2 separate regions of the Homo sapiens genome follow, and region 2 is linked to region 1. A link means that fine-mapping ties the variant in region 1 to the plasma level of a protein whose gene starts in the linked region. Region 1 holds a variant in brackets. A gene starts in the other region. All regions are shown on their forward strands. Region 1 overlaps CTSB (cathepsin B). Region 2 holds the start of ENPP5 (ectonucleotide pyrophosphatase/phosphodiesterase family member 5).

What was found. A credible set is the group of variants that fine-mapping cannot tell apart. PIP is the chance, under the fine-mapping model, that this variant and not a neighbour inherited with it causes the effect. The UK Biobank Pharma Proteomics Project read protein levels with antibody pairs (Olink). The fine-mapping took linkage between variants from a reference panel, not from the people measured, so its PIPs are less certain.
Region 2: ENPP5 starts here. The variant in region 1 is the best candidate, but not a certain one, in a credible set for the plasma level of the ENPP5 protein (UK Biobank, PIP 0.53).

What each region holds. Positions count from the first base shown.
Region 1 is chr8:11,862,178-11,864,697 of GRCh38, forward strand. All of the region lies in intron 1 of CTSB (cathepsin B), which reads right to left. Among named protein-coding and RNA genes, the nearest start is that of CTSB, 4.6 kb to the right of the region's middle. The variant C/T (reference allele first, on the strand shown) is at 1,394.
Region 2 is chr6:46,169,204-46,172,223 of GRCh38, forward strand. ENPP5 (ectonucleotide pyrophosphatase/phosphodiesterase family member 5) reads right to left here and starts at 1,777. Exons shown (of 5, transcript NM_001290072.2): 1 at 1,605-1,777; 2 at 850-911. RefSeq lists a silencer at 1,949-2,008.

The sequences.
Region 1 (2,520 bases):
GCCTGGGCGACAGAGTCAGACTCCATCTCAAAAAAAAAAAAAAAAAGAAAGGCCTAGCTCTTGGATCCAGCTAGGTCCTGTTTTCCTCCCTTGGGGCCCTGGGAACAGATACCCATCTCGCAAGGCTGATGGAAGATACAAGGAGACACTCTTTTGAAAGTGCCTACCCTGCACCAGGCTCAGAGCAGCGCCATCTGGGAGAAACTTCCTCAGTCACTGGGAGCGTGAAAAGCCATCTCCTTATACATAGGACAGCCAACGTTTGCATCCCAGAGTCATCATTTCTATTTTCAGAAGTATCCTAATTTGGATGAAAAATAATGGAAATTGTACTATCAGTGACAAGGCCTTAAAAGTTGATTTGTTCTGCTGTCTTGACTGCCAAAGCAAAGCATGTCCCAAACACCAGGAAGGCTGAGTGGGTTGGGAATGGGTGGCAGGTGGCCCCCAGCACTCTGATGTGGTTTGATGATACGCTTCCAACCCTCGAATGGGAAAAGCCTGTGGCTGGCACCGCCCTCCTGGGACTTGCGCAAGCCAGGAAGCTGTGTGACTGTGTGTGTGCACATTCTGCCAGAGTCCAGGTCAGCACGTCAGAGGGTCATGAGACAGCCCGGCCCTCCGGGCTCTTAGGGCAGAATATCTAGATGTCTTCTACAGGGCTCTCTACTGGTCCCGTTACCATCTTGGCCACATTGGGCCCATCCTTCTCCATGCATGCTTGCTGGTGATGCTAGATTATCTTGATGACCAGACCAAAGAAGTTACTGGCCTGGTAAAGACAGATAACACAGTCAAGACTGCCAGCCACACATCCTTCTCAGCACCCAGCATTTAGAAAACATCAGTTCTGGGCTGAGCACAGTGGCTCACATCTATAATTCTGACACTTCGGGAGGCCAAGGTGGGAAGATTGACTGAACCCAGGAGATTAAGACCAGCCTGGGCAGGATAGTGACCTCGTCTCTATATAGAAAATTAAAATTTAAAATAAAAAATAAATAGGCTAGCGGTGGCTCAGGCCTGTAATCTCAGCACTTAGGGAAGCCAAGACAGGCAGATCATGAGCTCAGGAGTTCAACACCAGCCCGACAAACATAGTGACATCCCGTCTCTACTAAAAATACAAAAATTAGCTGGGCGTGGTGGCACACGCCTGTAATCCCAGCTACTCAGGGGGCTGAGGCAGGAGAATCACTTGAACCCGGGAGGCGGAGGTTACAGTGAGCCGAGATTACACCACTGCACTCCAGCCTGGCGACACAGTGAGACTCCGTTTCAAAAAAAAAACAAAAAAACCCAGCAAATATGCCATCACTGACCAACAATAAAAACAGGAAAAGTGTCACTCAACCCATTTATGCCAGAGGTTGCAATTTTTTAAATTTTTGCA[C/T]GAGTAAAAACATCAGACCTTGGCGATGACCTTGAGCAGTATGATGTAAAAACTCCCACATGCTTAGCGTTCTAATAATGGAACACTAGGCATAAGTGGGTTACTGTTGTCCTACAGCAAAGATTAAATTTGAATTTCTGGTCATGAAATTAAAACAGGGGTACCACTTCAAACCCATCAGATTGGCAAAAATCAAAGTCTGGTACTATCTAGTGTTGGTAAATGTGAGGAACAGGAACTCTGCACACTGCTGGGCGAGTAAATTGATGCAACCACACTGGAGAACCCTTTGCCAGCATCTAGCAAGATGGAAGATGAACACACCTCATGACCCAGAAACAAACTCTCCCACATGTGCCCTGCAGAAACTCTTCTAAGTATCTGGGAGACACAGGATATTTATTGTAGCATGGGATAATAGTGAACACGAAATAACATAACTGTCCCTCAGTAGATAAACACACTGGGCACTTAACACAAATGGACTAGAACTGGATGTAGCAACAGAAATAAATCTCACAACCGTGAGTGAAAAAGGATCCATGTAGTGTAACTGAAGTCATATAAACTTTAATAACATTGTTTATACACTGATGCAGAGTTTTAAAAGTACAAAAAGGCCTGGAGGTGACTCATGCCTTGTAATCCCAGCATTTGGAAGGCCTAAGTGGGAGGAGGCAAGGGGATCACTTGAAACCAGGAGTTTCAGAGCAGTCCTGGCAACAGTGAGACCCTGTCTCTACCAACGAAAAAAAAAAAAAAAAAAAAAAAAACCTGGGCACCGCCTGTGGTCCCAGCTACTTACTACTCGGGAGGCTGAGGTGGGAACCAGATCGCTTACATCTGGGTGGCTGAGGCTGCCGTGAGCCGTGGTCGCACCACTGCACACCAGCCTGGGAGACAAAGCAAGACCCTGTCATTAATCAAACAATAAATGAATGAATGCATGAACAAAAAAATGTGCAGAAGAATCCAAAAGAGGGGCAGCAGACAGGGAATACAATGGCCCTTGGAAGGATCAGGAAACAGGCACAGGAGTGGTCTACAGAGGCGGACGATAAGGCTTGAAACTAAAAAAGAGATTAGTTAAAAGTCTAAACACATGGCTGGGCACAGTGACTCACACC
Region 2 (3,020 bases), not on the chromosome of region 1:
AACAATAGATATGTAAATTTTGTCAGTTTTCATCAGGCGTGCACATCCAGCAGGGATCTTTTGTTCTCTCATTTTTCTACCCATTCCTGCATGAAGGTATTTATAAACCCACCAAAACTTAGATCAAACCACACTTGTACAAATAAATCTCTTGAAACTGCCTTTTGATATCTTCCTAAGCTGAAGACTTCTTTTTTTTTTTTTTTTGAGAGGGAGTCTCACTCTGTTGCCCAAGCTGGTGTGCGGTGGCACGATCTCAGCTTACTGCAACTTCCGCCTTCCGTGTTCAAGCAATTCTCCTGCCTCAGTCTCCCAAGTAGCTGGGACTACAGGCGCCCGCCACCACACCCAGCTAATTTTTGTATTTTCAGTAGAGACAGGGTTTCGCCATGTTGGCCAGCCTGGTCTCAAAACTGCTGACCTCAGGTGATTCACCCTTCTCGGCTCCCCAAAGTGCTGGGATTACAGGCATGAGCCACCGCAGCCGGCCTGAAGACATTTTTAAACTTCAAAAATATATCCTGTTTCACCTTGCTGTATTATAGGTACAGGTAAATAAAAACTACTTGGCATGCTTGCTTTGCTTTCAGAAATACAAGGTATATGTACATTGTGGGTATTCGCTGAGGGCAATAAATTCTGTTTTGCTGGTTTTAAACTGTGTTTTCACCATACCTAGACATTTCTTAAACTGAAATTGTTTTAGGTATTGGTCTCAAGATGATAGCTCAAATGTCATATTTAAAAACGATTTCTTGGATGGCAATACTCTCTCTGATTCTGGAAGGAACATTAAACACAGTTGCAGCAAGGAATAGCAAATAGGTTACTGCAAATATATTTACTCACCTATCTGGCTATGGATGGTAGTTGCTCTCTCTGTCCTTTCTCCCCCTAATTTTCTCTCCCACCTTTTTAAAACAAGGAAGGCTAGTATCAACCAAATGTAATTTAAGGCTAAAAGCAGAGGAAATAAACTACATGGAACACCTCATTTTCATCTATCTTAGCAAATTAATTCGGCACATGTGTAAGCAGGAGAAAACTGCTTTCTTGGGACCAACAAAAGTAAGCAAAGATTAAGTGTTGTCTAAAGCTTAGGAATGTTTGGCAAGAAGACTCAACATCACATCCATGACACAGAGCAATAAACAGAGGTGGGGGGTGGGGAATGAAAACAATCAGAATTTTTTTTTTTTTCGTGCACAAAATGCTGCACAAAACAGTGGAATCCCTGGATCTGGCTCCACATTTCATTGAGTACTTTCCAGTTCTTTCTCCCCTCCAACCCTTCCTCCACAAACAGACTTGGAGAGCAGGAAGGACGGGGCACCGATTAAACGGAAGAGGGAAAGTGCAGAAGGAGTAGGTTTGTGTAGCTCGGGTAGACGTCAAGGGCGGGGGTGTCCATCTTCTCCACCAGGATTCCATCCTAGCCACCCAGAATGGTCGCGGCGTAGGTTATGTTCCCAATTCCCAGTCATCCCGCCCACCGAGGCCTGGGCTTCTTAGATGTGCAGTGGCAAGGAGGGGACGTTGCTTTAGGGACCCAGAGGAGCAGTGTGGGTTCCCGGGAGGGAAGCCACCCACGCCCCTGGACTCACCCTCGCAGCGATCCGTTCAGTCCGTATTAGTTTGGAGCAACGGGAGGGAGGGTCTGGAGGAGACTCCCTCGGGCGCGCCGCGGGTAACGGCGGGAGGGTGACTGGAGGAACGCCCCCGGAACGCGCAGGAGCTCACCTGCGCTCAACTCTGGAGCGGAGCACCTGACCGCGCCGCTTCCCCGCCCCGCCTCCTGGCTTCTATTGGCTGCTGCAGAGATAGTCACTTCTGCCTGGGTTGCCCCCGAAAGCCAGGCTCCCAGGAGTAGCTGCACGGCCTGTCAATCAGCGGGGGCAGGGGCGGGCGCTGCCTGGGTTTGGAGGGTGGAGGGGGAGGGGACTCCCGGGGGCAGGGACCCATCTGGTAGGGCGAAGGCGTGGGATGGCCAATTGCTTGGTCACACACAAAACCTTCCGGCAACGTGCCTTTTCCAGGGGACCAGCTGTGCTGGAGTCAGTGATGCTGAGAGATTATTGCGTGTTACCCCAATGGTGGGTGTACTCTAACAGTCACTGTTTTTTGTTTAAAAGCGACTTGTATTCTCTGATTTCTTATCCCAGGCTTTTTTCCTTCCCCCGCCCCCCGCCCCCTGCCTTGTCACGAATTGGCGATGGGGCACACCATGGGCTTTGCTCTGAGGAACACCTGCACACCCGAGGATGCCAATGGGACGATGAAGTTTCATTCTTTTTATTAGTGGGTGTTATCTGCTTTACCTCAGAAAGAATTTATTAACCTAGTCAACTCTGCAGCCCCAACGTTTGCAGTCCAGGTTTTTGCAATTGAGGTCCCTGAGGTATATTTGTGGTGTACCTAGCATGGCACCTGAAATTGTGCGAATTAAACCAAGACAGGTTCAGAATTAGGTTAATTTGCACAGGAGAGAGGCTGAACAGCCACCCTCTCTGGTGGTGGCATCCGAGCTCCAGACTCTGTTTCTACCTTTGTTTGCAAAGTAAACATTAAAACTACAAACATCAGGCCTGATTACTCTTTCAGAAAGCCTTCAGTGCTTCTTGTGTGTTAGTGCCCCTATTTTGTCTTTTTCCGTACTGTAGTGGATTATTTTCTCAGTTTTTTTGGGATAATCAATGGCATTTTTAGGCCTGAGGGAGTGTAGGCAGGTACTTAGTTTGCCAGTATGATCCCAACTGTCTTTACCATAAATTATAGCAGTGATATCAAACTACCCTGAAAGAATTTGTCCATCTACACAATCCCAGCTAGAATTCTGACCTAATTAGAATTCTAGTTCTATCTGCAGTAGGCAATAATATCAGGTTGATTGTTACAATGTAAGTTTAACATCTAATTAGCTGGTAAAACTGGGAGCATATCTGCAATGGTGGTTTTGGCTCCTGCCCGGAGCTCGGATCCCTTGTCTGGTGTGCTGGAGCTTTAAAGTGAATAGAGATATC